Homo sapiens: one gene and its partner. The protein of the gene in region 2 purifies or fractionates together with the protein of the main gene of each other region. This does not show direct contact. Each region holds a gene or a part of one and is shown on either strand. Other genes may lie near its edges. The genes, in order: NCAPG2 and SMC2.

What was found.
Region 1: the proteins of SMC2 (region 2) and NCAPG2 purify together in Homo sapiens (affinity purification with western blotting; 4 studies listed by BioGRID and IntAct, with this or other methods). This does not show direct contact.

The regions. Positions count from the first base shown.
Region 1 is NC_000007.14:158,694,766-158,702,049, forward strand, and holds part of NCAPG2 (condensin-2 complex subunit G2), read right to left. Parts: intron 7,174-7,284; 5' UTR 7,135-7,173; coding exon 7,057-7,134; intron 1-7,056. UniProt on the Homo sapiens protein: Regulatory subunit of the condensin-2 complex, a complex which establishes mitotic chromosome architecture and is involved in physical rigidity of the chromatid axis.
Region 2 is NC_000009.12:104,097,081-104,104,364, reverse strand, and holds part of SMC2 (structural maintenance of chromosomes protein 2), read right to left. Parts: intron 5,920-7,284; coding exon 5,797-5,919; intron 4,722-5,796; coding exon 4,683-4,721; intron 4,273-4,682; coding exon 4,162-4,272; intron 3,977-4,161; coding exon 3,932-3,976; intron 2,406-3,931; coding exon 2,172-2,405; intron 1,942-2,171; coding exon 1,792-1,941; intron 1-1,791. UniProt on the Homo sapiens protein: Central component of the condensin complex, a complex required for conversion of interphase chromatin into mitotic-like condense chromosomes.

The DNA of each region.
Region 1 (7,284 bases), on a different chromosome or scaffold from region 2:
CCTGGTGTTTGTTTTCTCCTCTTCTTAGCGCTCCTTCATTTTTCATCTAGCTTTTTCCACCTCCGCTTGTTCACTTCTATCTACTCTCTTTCCTCGTTTCCTTGACCCTCCTCCCCTTCAATTCTCCTCTCCATTTTCCTTAAGCCTTTGCCTGTCAATCACATGCAAACACAGACCAGCTCTCAAATGTTTGACCTTAGACAGTATCTTGATCTACCTATAGACCCGACATTCAATCATGAACAATTGAATAATTCTTTACGCCTCAATTATGCAGAAAAAATAAGTTAATGGCCCGCTTAAGTCCATTAATGGTAATTTTCCAGTATATCAATGGACAGTTTTGGTGCTGGGGTCATTCATCTGGGTGATGGACCACAGCTACTGTGTTCAAAGATCAAGAGGTTCTATTCAGGGCAAACTCTGGTGACTGAAGGTGACCAGAGAAATGACTGGGCTGATTCATGACGCTTACATCAGGAAATACTAGTTGACTGATGGTTAGGGCACAGAAACGAATCAGGACCCACCCTGCCCTGAGTAAGTTCACAGTCTAGGGGCAAGAATAACAACCTACAGATTGTTAAAATCTATTAGAGGTGTATGCTGAAGGATATAGCCTGAAGGAAAAGAAATAGCTGCCCATCCACCTATGTGACAAACTAGGATGGGCTGCTAACTCCTTCCTGAAAAATCAACCCTGAAGAAATGAGAGTGAGAGAGGTTCCAGTAACAAACTATAGCAACAAAATGAGACACACACCCAGCTTCACTGAAGGCTGTTTGGAGCTGGGGATGTGAGAAATGAGTGGCTGTTGCCTAGGGCACTGAAGAGCTGGCTGGAAGGGCAAGGAAAGGATGGGGGACAAAAGCTGTTCAAATATCAAAATGTTCTACCTCTCCCCAGCATGGCCTTGGGGTGGTCATTGCCTGGCATTGCCACGACATTAGCAGTGACGGCCCAGGCCTCTAGGGCCATAGGACACTGGGCAAAGGCAGGGCAACACAAAAGCCCAGCAGTTAGAAAGAACACGTGCAGACTAGCGAGCTGCCTGTGGGCATCCTTCCACAACCACCTCCAGCCCCCGGATGCAGAAGCTGTGCAGCCCTGTGCTGTACAGAGCGCACCAGGATGAGGGGCCGGTGGGGTGGACATCCTGCAGGGCCTCTCCTCCCTGTGTGAGTGCCCTGGCCACCTGTGCCCCAGCAAGGTGCCTTTTTGTAGTCTATATGCCCAGAGGGAGGTATCCTCTTGTGACTGGCACAATGTGTATGAAGCAGGGGAAGTCTTGTTGCGTAGCAAAAAACTTGGTAGCATAAAGCAACAATTTTACTGTATCTCATGAATCAGATGCTCACTCTTGGGGACACATGCCTGTGCTTAAGGTGGCAGCTGGGTGTTGGATGTCTGGCACTTTGGTGCCCACTAATGAGGTCTCCCTCTGCAGTCTCATCCTCCAGCCTTTGTGTGTGGTCTCTCTCTCCAGCAGAGGGTGATCCTGCACTTCTTACATGACAACCACGGGCTCCGAGAGGAAGTAGAAGCTGCCAAACTTTCTGAAGGCCACTTCCTCAATATTCCGTCCGTCAAAGCAGGCACAAGCCCAATCCAGATTCAAGAGGAGAGGACATAGGCTGCAGAGGGTTATTTAACAGGATTATCCACAATGTTAAATTTCCTGATTTTGAGGATTTTAATGTGATTATATAACAGAATATCTTTTAGAAAAATACGAACTGAAATGTTTAGAGATAAAGAGGCACAATGCCTACAACTGACTCAAGTGATTCAAAAAAATGTAAATACAAAGGATGATAAAGAAAATGTGGCAAGTGGTAAAAACTGGCAAACCTGGACGTAGGGTATTCAGGATTCCTTTGAATTCCTCTTGCAACTTTTCTTTTAACTTAGCAGTTATTTCAACAGGAAAGAAATTACTTCTCCACCCTAACCCTGCCACCCTCCTCCTCCTAAGTCCACACCCTTAGCTTCCCAAATGTGCCCTGCCTCAGGGGCTCGGCCTTTCCCATTCCTTTTGTCTAGAATCTTCTTTTCCCAAATCTCTGCATGGCCCATTTGGATCTCTGATCAAATATAGTCAGGCAATGCATAGTGATATTTCAGTCAATGACAAACCACATATATGAGAGTGGTCCCATAAGATTATAATGGAGCTGAAAAATTCCTATCACCTAGTGATGTCATGGCTGTCAAAACATCATAGTGTAACAGATTAATCACATTTGTGGTAATGTTGGTGTAAACAAACCTACTTTTTATCATTGTTTTAGAGTATATTCCTTCTACATTTTTTTAAGTTAATTGTAAACTAGCCTTAGGCAGGTGCTTCAAGAGAAATTCCTGAAGGCAATGTTATCATAGGAGATGAGATGACAGCTGCATGTCTGTTATTGCCCCTGAAGACCTTCCACTGGGACAAGATGTTAAGGTGGAAGACAGTGATACTGATGATCCTGACTTGGTACAGGCCCAGGCTTATGGTATATTTGTGTCTTAGTTTTTAACAAAAAAGTTTAAAAAGTAAAAATAGATGGCTGGGCATGGTGGCTCACACCTGTAATCCCAGCACTTTGGGAGGCCAAGGCAGGTGGATCACCTGAGATCAGGAGTTTGAGACCAGCCTGGCCAACATGGCGAAACCCTGTCTCTACTAAAAATACAGAAATTAGCCGGTGTGGTGGCGTGTGCCTGTAATCTCAACTATTCAGGAGGCTGAGGCAGGAGAATCACTTGAACCCGGGAGGCGGAGGTTGCAGTGAGCCAAGACGACGCCACTGCACTCCAGCCTGAGCAACAGAGCAAGGCTCCAACTGAAAAGAAAAAAAAAAAAAAGTAAAAATAGAAAAAAGCTATCAAATAGGGGTATAAAGAGAGTATTTTTAGCAAAGACATGGAATAAACCTAAATGCCCATCAATGATAGACTGGATAAAGAAAATGTGGTACATATACACCATGGAATACTATACAGCCATAAAAAAAGAATGAGATCAAGTCCTTTGCGGGGACATAGATGGAGCTGGAGGCCATTATCCATAGCAAACTAACACAGGAACAGAAAACCAAATACAGCATGTTCTCACTTATAAGTAGGAGCTAAATTATGAGAACACATGGACACGGGGGAACAACACACACTGGCCTATTGGAGGGTAGAGGGTGGGAGGAGGGAGAGGATCAGGAAAAATAACTAATATAACTAAATAACTAAAAATAACTAATTACTAGGCTTAATACCTCAGTGATGAAATAATCTGTACAATAAACCCCCATGAGACAAGTTGACCTATGTAACAAACCTGTACATGTAACCCTGAATATAAAAGTTAAAATAAAATAAAATGAAGAAAGATTTTTTGTAAAGCAAAATAAGTTTGTGTTTTAAGCTAAGTGTTATTATAAAGGATTTTAAAAGTTTATCAAGTAAAACAGTTACAGTAAGCTAAGGTTAATTTATTATTGAAGAAAAATGTTTTTATAAATTTACTGTAGCCCAAGTGTAATGTGTTTATAGTTTACAGTAGTGTACAATGACGTATTAGGCCTTCACATTTACTCACTACTCAGTTATTCACCCAGAACAACTTCCAGTTGTGCCAGCTCCAGCTACACTAAGTGCCCTATTCAGATGTACCATTTTTTATGTTTTATACTGTATTTTTACTGTACCTTTTCAATGTTTAGACACACACCATTGTGTTACAACACTGTGCCTACAGTATTCAGTACAGTAACATGCCACACAGGTTTGTAGCCTAGGACGGTAGACTGTACCATCTAGCCCAGGTGTGTACTGAGCTGCTCCATCTGGGTGTATGTAAGCACACTTTAGGATGTTCACACAACAATGAAATGACCTAATGATGCATTTCTCAGAACCTATCCTCATCAAGAGTCATGTGACTGTACCAACTCTGTTCAAATATCATCTCTGAGGTTTTCTTTAGCCACTCCATCGTTCCCAACTTCCACTTCCACTTGCTTTATCAGTAGTAGTAGTATTTTTTTTTTTTTTTTGAGACAGGGTCTCACTTTGTCACCCAGGCTGGAGTGCAGTTGCACAATCATAGCTCACTGTAGCCTCAAACTCCTGGGCTCAAGTAATTCTACTGCCTCAGCCTCCCAAGTAGTTGGGACCACAGGCACAAGCCACTACACTAGGCCAATTTTTTAACATTACTGTAGAGACGGGGTCTTACTATGTTGCCCAGGCCAGTGTTATCCTGGCCTCAAACGATCCTCCTGCCTCAGCCTCCCAAAGCTCTGGAATTACAGAGGTGAGTCACTGTGCCCAGCCTCCACCTGCTTTATTATTTCTCTATGTGTCTTGTTTTTCTTCCTCTACCACTAGAACATAAACCCCCATTTGTGCAGAAACTTTTCTTTGTGTGTACTATAACCCCAACTCTCAGTGCAGTGTCTGGCACACAGAAGGCACTTAGGACATGTTTGTTAAATGATGGAATTCTCCTCAGTGCTGTGTCCTCCTCCCCATCATTGATTCTCCAAGAAGGACAAGGGCATACAGTATAATCAGCTCCACTCTGGAACACTTGCTTGAAAATAAAAATTTGTTCCAACATTGTCAATACATCAAGGAACAATTTGACCAAAGGCAAATTCCCATTTGCTTATGTGGGATTTCATAGGCAAGAAATACCAGGTGAATGCAGAAAACTGCACCCACTGACTGGAGCCACCAGGATCCCATGAAACACAACTCAGACACCTACCAGCTCAGTCCATTCATACCTGGGCCACACATTGTGCCCCTCACCTGCTATGACCCAAAGGCTCCAACCCCACTGCACTGCACCCTCCCCAGGCCCACCGTGCTCTCCAATGCTCTGTATTCCCCTCTGCCTTGCTTGCCTTTTTCTCCTCTGTTCTACCTCATTTTCTTCCTCTTACACACAGAGGGGCAGGTGTACCTTGGGAGCACAGGCACCTACTCCCAACTATAGAATGTAAATATTTTTCAAGGTAAAGTGCCATGCTTACTATAGTATTTATGCATTTCTTACTGATTTAACATATAAAATTATGCTACTGTTTTATTAGGTTCCTGTTTTTAACATGTCACTGGCAAAATTTTTTAGTGTTGTCCCTCTAACTCCATTTTCCCCATAATCTCTCTGGGTTATTTATTTATTTATTTATTTATTTATTTTAACCAATTCTGCAGAGTGCAGTGACTGTTGGTAATGCATGTGTGGGATTACAGCAGAACTAACTGTACTTGGAAAGATCTACCTGATAGGCCCCAAACTGATTTAAATTCTTATCAAATTGAACTATGGGAAACCATCATTATTATATAAAATGGCATTTCTGTCATTCAACTTGATGAAACCACGTGATGCACAATCCTACACATTTTCATTTTTACACGTAAGAGCCACACGGTGACTAGGTACTAAGCTGAACTGTTAAGTGTTAATAAAGCTTATTGATAAACTAGAGTTAATGCCTCATTAGTATAAGGACTAATTCAGTATTCTCCTGAGATGTCTGCTGGCTTTCCAGCAACACTGCAAAGGCTGGTTGGCACACAACGGGTGGCTGGAAACAACGCACCCCAGAAGGGCACCTGTCATTGTGGCCACCAGTGTGATTTTGAGTTGCTATTTTTACCTCTGATTTTCAATTTAGTTTTCTGTGATTTTGTTAACATTATGGTATGCACTTTGCAACAACAATCTTTTAGACTTTAAAATATGTATGTACTGCATTTCCAATACAATCCATATACACTGCTACTGCTAAAGCAGACATTTATATATTATCTAACTAATTTGCTCTTATAAACACTTCTATGGTGATGAGATGCCTATGAGTTTGCGATTATTTTTAAGTTTACAGGATATCATTTTATAATACCAAAACATGTTATAAGCTCATTTCTCTTATAAAGAAAAATGATTTCTTAAATGTTGCCAGTAACAAATTCATTATTAGATTCCTCTAATTCTTTGTCACTAATTTGATTTTCACCACATAATAAGAACAAGTGAGACAAGTGTGCCAAGGGTCTCCTGCCCCAAAGATACTTTCGTATTTCAGAGTCAGTGCCTCCAATGCTGGCTTCCTCAGAGATGTGTCCTAGGCCCTTTTATCTGAAACTCTACAGAGATAACTGCAGGCATTCCCATGACTTAGGCTTCCATGCCCAACCTGTCTCTAGCTCAGCCCTTTCCCCTGGTATCCAGACGTGCATGTCTGACTACTGGCCATCCGCTGGTGCACATCCCACCACCAGTCATCTGGTACCTCCAAAATGGAGCCACATTCTCCCTTGAATCTGCCCTCTTCCCACGTTCATGAGCTTGCTGAATGGTACTACACAGTCAGACGCCTGGGCCCTTCCCCACCATATCCATATCCAATCAGTCCAATAGTGCCATCACTTCACTACCAAGCAGCTTCCCATTTCCAGTTCCTAATTCAACCATCATTTTGAAGAGCACAACCTAAGAGGTTAGCCTTAAATATGTCCCTTTGACATATTTCTCACTTGTAGTCAGAGGAATATTTCCAAAAGGCAAACCATATTTTTCTCCTTACCTCTATTTTGTCCACTAGTTCTCTCTCCTTCTCTTTTGTTCTCTTCCTCCCTTGCCTACAGCTCGCTCCCTGCTTCAAGCACCCACCGTTCTCAAGATAAAGTCTGAATTCCTTAAAATGGTAAAGACTCGTGTAGCCTAGCCCCCAGCCTCATCTTCTGCCTTCCTGCTGAACTTCAAGTTCAAACACAACAAACCTTCTCTAGTCTTCAGAGTGACCTTCTTTGTTAGATGGGTCCTTTCCCCCAACATCCCTCTTTGACTGGTTAACTTCTGTTTATCTTTTACATCTTAGCGTAGCCCACCAGCAGGTAGATTTGAGTATAAAGGGTTTTGTTTTCTTCTTTCAAATAAACATTGGTCGCTAAGGATTCACTGAGATAACTATGTTTCTTTTGGGGACATAATGACTTTAGAACATATTTCATATTCACAGTCAAAAATCACAACAAAACTAAAACATGAAACTTACATCAAGTTGAACAAATTGCAAAAACTCTCCAACCAGCTCCTTAGACACGGCTTGTACAAACGTCTCACGTTTTTCCATGACAGATGGCACTGTTCAAATGGCATTTATTTTGTAACCCTAATGGAAAACACAATCATACTGAAACACTTGCAAATATATCTTTTCCTGTAAGATTTAATTTGATATTAACATCCAAGAACTGCAAGAAAATTCCTCAACCACGTATGG
Region 2 (7,284 bases):
GCAATGAATCCTAGACTTCTGTTTTCCCTTGTTGCCTATCAATAAGTAATAAATCCATTTCACATAAAATGTTGTGTATGAATGTGTTATGTCTGCTGGCTTCAGACAAGTTGGTAATCTGCACACAATAAACCTGCTTCATAGAGTTTAGGGAGTTAAGCCTGCTTATAGATTTGGAGGGCATCAACATATAGATGATATTTAGAGTTACAGAGCTGGATGAGACCACCTATGGCGTGAGAGTTTATAAAAGATATCAGAGTGCTAGCCTTAGGGCATACTAACATTAAGAGATCTAGAAGAATAAGGGGATACAGAAAAGAAGGATGAAAAAGGAGCAATCAGTGTGTGAAGCTTAAGGACATGACAAGACTAAAGAAAAATGAACCCAAAACAAGGCAGGTCCACATGTTTAGAGCTTTACAAACCTCACCTAAAAAAAAAAAGTAATTGATGAATTGATTTCAGTTCTTGGATGCCACAACACAGACTGCTACAACACGTTCATATCGCTTCAAAATTTTGTCTAAATTTTCCTCCACTGTTTCTTAATTCAACAATGTATTTCTCTGCAAAAATATCTAACAGGGCAGTATAAAGAAATTATTTTCACAAAGTTAATTTTTTTTCAGTGAAAAGGCAAATGTATACCTTCACTGGGACAACAGAATCACCCTCAAAAGAAATGCCATAAGCTCCAAAAACACACCTACTCATCTACCTACATGTGAGACTATATACTTGACTCTTCTGTTACCATGGATGACCTATTCCTAGTTCTCGCGAAGGCGACCTCCTCTATACACTAGTTCCTATCCTACTTGCAGCTACTAAGGGGCCCTATTTTAACAACTCTCCCATCTCTCTCTCCTGAATCACAAATGACGACTTTTCTACTGGATCTTTTCTGTCAATATAGAATTTATTTATCCCATGTCAAATCAAGCCAAAAACTCTCTTCTGTATTACCCTCCAGTTACCTCCCTATTTATCCCTCTTTCAGAAAACTTCTCAAAAAGTTATCTATATTCACTTTTCTTTTTTCTGCCTTCATTCTGTGAGAGTATGAACACAATCTAATCAGGTACTCATGGCCACTTCTCCTTGAAACATCTTTTTTACCTGGACTCCAGGACAATTTACTGGCCTAATTTTCCTCACACTACTCAATCTCTTTTGAATGTTGAACTATCCTAACATTCAAACGTTGAAAGTATCCCAGGGCTCCAACCTTCTTATATGAACTTACAGCCTTGATCATTTTATCTAGTCTCATGGATTTAAATAACACCTATACATTGATGATGCCTCCAAATCTGTATTTTTGCCTGGATTCAATATTCATATAGTTAAGTACCTAATCAACATCACTACTCAAGATGTCTAACAGGCTCCTCAAGCCTATTATATTCATACTGTATTTCTTAAGCTTATCAAACCCGTTCTTCCTATTCTCCACTTACTTCAGTGGCTATCCAACTTAAAATCCCAAATTGTACTCTTTTTCCCCTACACTCCTAATCCCCTTCCCTGCTTTTTCTCCACATCAGTTATCACTCTATAACATGTTACATGTTTTATTTATTTTCTTTATTATCATTTCCCCCAATGGAATGAAGGTCCACAAGGCAAGGATTTTTGACCATTTGGTCCAGTTGTAACCACAGCCCAAACAACTGTACTTAGCTTATAGAAGACACTCACTAAATATTCATGGAATAGATAAATGTACACTAATGAGACTATATACTTGTCTACAAGTGGCACTAGTGGCACATTAAGCTCACTTACCTCAACCATATTTTTTTCCAGCTCTTTGCGTTTGCTTTCCTCACATGCCAGATTTTTCTTCTTGAGATCAAATGCGCTTTGAGATTTAGTATTAACTCGCTGAGCCTCTGCAAGAGCATCTTCTAAAGATCGAAGTATACCTCCAGTTTCCTATAACAAAATGCAGTCAATTCAATCACTTATGTAAAATTTGTTCACGCTGTCATTTTATTGTATGAGTTCTGTATCAAACACTTTTTTATAAGTTATTTCATTATCTTACTATAAGATTAACAAATCAATACGGAAGACAATGCCCAATGAATCCTAAATAGTTACTATATATAATTTAGTACGTTTTTCACAGAGTATATTATCGATTCTTATACATATGTTCAGACCTTATCTTTTCTTTTTTCCAATTCTTCTATTTCATGATTAAGTGCTTTTATTTTTTTATCATTCTCAGACAATTCTTCCTGAAGCTTTATAACTTTATCTTGCATTTCTTTTAATTCCTCAGCTGAGCGTACTTTGGTATCTTCAGCCAGCAAAAACTGATAAGCAATATATAAACGACTCAAATGTTCTATTTCTCTCATTACTTTTTGGTACTCCAAGTAGGACGATCTTTCCTGAAAGAGAAATCACAAAAAAAGAATAACTCAAAATTGTATTAAAAAAAAAATTCAATTATGCAAGATGAAACAAATTTCTCATTACATAATAGATTTTGTCCTGTATTAAACAATTATAGCATTTTAAATTGTAGGAAACTTTACGTAACATCAGAAGTCAGGACTTTTAGATAGCATTCTACCATCTCTAGTGAATCTTATTTGGCTATTTCTTCTAACACACACTTGGGTAGTTGAGCTTAACAAAGAAATATGGACATAAGGTTCATAAGCTTACACACCCACCATGTTACACTATTACATGGATTCTGTAGTAGTAGTATCAAGATGCCTACTCTAATATACTTTGAAGCACTACTACAAGCACTCGCTTACATCATTACTAAACACGACTCCCATAAGGACCTACTGGGACCAGACAAAGTAATAACTAAAATCCTTAATTTATACATAAAAAACAAATTCAGAATGATTAAATGATCTGTCCATGTTGTTAGATTTAGAAAGCAATTGTGGCAAAATGAAGTCTAGGACCTAAGTTTAAATTCCTGATCTAGTGTTTTCTACTAAATCATACATACAAAAAGGGTATCTTCAAGATTACAATTTTTCCAGTAAAATTTATACTACTATATGGATTCACAAGACAGCTCTGAGTAGTACCAAATTTCAATGAGCATTTAATAAATTCCTAAAAGGAGATAGCTTTAAAAACGTCGTTTGGCTGGGCACAGTGGCTCACTCCTGTAATCCCAGCACTTTGCGAGGCCGAGGCAGGTGGATCACTTGAGCCCAGGAGTTCAAGACCAGCCTGAGAAACAATGAGAAACCCTGTCTCTACAAAAAAATAAACTAGCAGGGTGTGGTGGCATGCACCTGTAGTCCCAGCTACTCAGAAGGCTAAGGTGGGAGGATCCCTTGAGACCGGGAGGTGGAGGCTGCAGTGAGCTGTGATGACACCACTGCACTCCAGCCTGGGCGACAGTGAGACTAGTCTCAAGAAAAAGAAAACGTAGCTCATAAATGCATTTTTTGATGACATATTGTGCCATGTCTTTTGACAGTCAGGAGCTGCAAAGATTACAGAGACAATCCAATCCTCTGTTTCAATACCTTTTGCTTACAAAATACCTTGATAGCAATAATTATAGTGATAGCCCCTGTTATCCTGGAAATTGTTCTCAATGAGGGTGTCTAAGAGTGCCTTATCTTTAAGAAATGTTGTTCCAGTCAATGCTAACTAACTAGGAAAATCCAGACTTGCTTAGCTTAAATAAAGTATTAAAATTCGGCATACCATTTTCTGAAACTATAAAAATTACTCTCCAATATCCTATGACTTAGCAGATAAGTGCATATCCTCTGTAAGCAGAACGCTGAGTTATGGAGTGCCAACTCTAATTCCTTATCTCATCGCAGGAAAAAAACCCCCAAGAAATAGTATCACTATGTGTATGATTTTGGATACATTGCTGACTTTGAAAGACATTCTAATAGATTATCCTCACATATACAGAATATACCTCTTTTAATTTTTGAATGGTTGGAGTAATCTCTTCTTCAAGTATCTGGAAAATAAAGAAAAATCAGTATTTTCGCATGTAAAGTATCATTAAAATTTATTTGAAAGAGAAGTAGCAGGGATGACTATGGAAAACTGAACCAAGGAAAAAAATTTTTCCCTCTTTACAGCAAAAACTCTACATGCAAAATTACATTCTTCTCCGAAAATATTTTATATGAATTAAATTACCGTCTTAATTTCTTTCAGCTTAGCCTCCTTTTTTTCTATAGTTTTCTGTGCAGCTATTTTTTTGTATTCATACATCCTGGTTCCAGCTGCTTCTTCTATCATGGATAAAATCTGGAATGACAATTTTATTAATGTTTAGTATCCAAGACAATGTGTCCAACTGGAATTTACATTAAATATATCATTTTTGCCTTGACCTCACTAAACATCTTACCAAAAGTTGGCCCAAATGAACCATATAGGTTAAATATAGTAATTTCACACAAACCTTTTCCTGTAGGCTTTTTCTGTAGGAATGAATTCTGACATGAAACACCAGCTAAGCAAGACTCCTTTATACAATCAAAATCAATTTTAATATTTGGGCATAGTGCCAAATATTACACAAATATACAACTGTCTTTACTAATCATTCCCAAATAATGTCTCCAAAAATTTTAATAGAATATTTAAAAATTGTCTGAAAGATTAAAGTAATATCTATACCAACTATTTTTAATGTCCATAAATAGTACTCTTACCTCTGGAGGTTTCATATTCAATACTTTTGTAATTCGGCCCTGAAAATAAAATAGCAAACTTACTAAGATAACAAATTACAGAAAATGTTTATCTGTACTGCCATTCATGTTTATCTAGACTGAAGCTGTTGTATCTCAATATACCAATCTTTGGGGGGGTCTTTCCTCTATAATTCTTCTATGATTCTAGAATTTTGGAACTTTGCTATTCACTTTCTCACCAGTGATACAAATTATGGAAGTTATGAAATGATACAAATGAAATAATTCATTAAATGATACAAAGTTAACAAGGATCATGTTTCTGAGACAGTTAACATTAAGTAGAAATATTCAAATTTAAAACAGGTAAATATAAAAAGAAATTTCAGCATAATTAAAAAACTTTTAACATTTCTTTGAATGATAACCCTCCAGGATAATTTCACAAAACAGATGACATACTTCTAGGCCTCAAACAAAATACAATATTTTACATCAATGCCAGAAAACCATTAAATTTATTCATTACCAAAAACAAATAAAGCAAAACACCTGCACACCCAGGTCTCAGAGAATTGTATTACTAGAATGTAGATTCATTTAAAGTAAAGTTTCAACTATGAAGGTGTGTAGTGGAAATATTTTTATTTTGGTCCCACTGAGATGCTCCCATCGACTTTACTATAATTCTCTCAAACGGCAGCTGGATGGGTCAAATGAAGTAATGTAAATGTAAGATAAAATCAGCCTTTACTCCTCATTTGTGTGAGTCTCTAAGAAAATTACTCAAGCTTTTATACTTGAAATATTAAGATGCATTAATCCAATAATTTAAAAGGATATATTATGGCTTTTTTTTTTTTACAGTTAACATGTATTGTTCTTTTAGTGACAAAACAAAAAGTCAACAAAAATTACTTCTAAACATTCTAGAGGAGTCAAAGGTCTATAATCCAGTAGAATATATCAGTGCAAGTAACTAAACCATATTTCTAAACAGATGGCCGGACACAGCACAATAGTAAATAAAAAGTATAAAATCCAAAACATAAAGTACTTCTATTTTAATTGCTTAAAAGTAAAAAATGTCGAAACTATTACGAAAGTGATATAAAGACCTCAAACGAAATACCTGCATGATGAGAAAGTGAGGGTTGTTAACATTAAGGCCAACAGAACAGAAGAGATCCTGTACTCTGGTGTTGTTGGCATTGACTCCATTGATTAAATATTTATTTCTACCACCAATAACCACCTATAAAAGAAAGCAATTTTTTAAATATTAATGTACATGCACACCTTGTGCTAGGATAAACTAAGTATATTAGCTTACGTTTATTTGTTCTGTCTGACTAGCAGTAAACAAAACCAATTCTGCATAAATAGTGGAACAAGTATGACATGGTCAAAAACGCTAACTTGAGTCAGGACAGCTAGTATCTAATGCAAGTACTTTTGGTAACTAGTTATGTAATTACACACAAGCCTCTTACCCTGGCCTGCACCAGACTAGGTCTCCGAGGTAACTTCTAGCTTTATGTTTCCAAGTATATGTAAAACACACTTTCCTAGTTACTTTCTTTCTGTAATTTTTCTAGAGGCTTTCTCTACTTTTCAACAGGAATAGATGTCAGACAAAGTAGCTTAGTATCAATTCTTGACAAGATTCAAAAAGCTATTAATAAAGACATGATTTATGACCATTTAAAAGAAAGGGTAATCATGGAGCTTCAGTATGGTTTCATTAAGTCATCCCAGACACCATACTCTACTATCACACTTAAATTGTCATTTATTGGGTATGATTGTCTCATCTACCAGATTGAAGTCCTTAAAGACAAGCTCTGTTTCTCATTCTTCTAACTGTACATCCCAGTACATTCAAGAACACCCAATATACATCAACTATTTAATAAATATTGAATAAATGTTAGTTCATTTCTTTTCCTGACAGGACTACTAGGTTGGTAGTTCATATATTAATGTATTTGAAGACCCTTCTCTGACAAAAATTTTATAATTTTGGTGAAGATACAAGTTTATGGCCTGAATGAGGACAGGAACAATTAGGTAGATTATTAGTAAGAGACTTAGTGACAGTTCCTAAAGGATAAATATTTGATGGATGCCTAATGACATGGAACAGGATTCTGTCCTAACGTGGCCTACGCTTCTTTTTTTTTTTTTTTTTTCAACCAGAGGCTTCCATTAAAATAGAGGAGAAAATCTGTAAGTGATAAATGATAAGATGGACAGTAAATAGGAGTTGACAACATTTTTAAAAACAAAATCTTGGGCCAGGCGCCGTGGCTCACACCTGTAATCCTAGCACTTTGGGAGGCCAAGGCGGGCAGATCATGAGGTCAGGAGATTGAGACCACCCTGGCCAACATAGCGAAATCCCGTCTCTACTAAAAATACAAAAAACAAAAAAAAATTAGCCGGGTGTGGTGGTGGGCACCTGTAGTCCCAGCTACTCAGGAGGCTGAGGCAGAAGAATCTCTTGAACCCGGGAGATGGAGACCAGCCTGGGTAACAGAGCGAGACTCCGTCTCAGGAAAAAAAAAAAAAAAAAAAAAAACCTTGACAAGCTGAAAACACTGCCTGACTATATTAATAA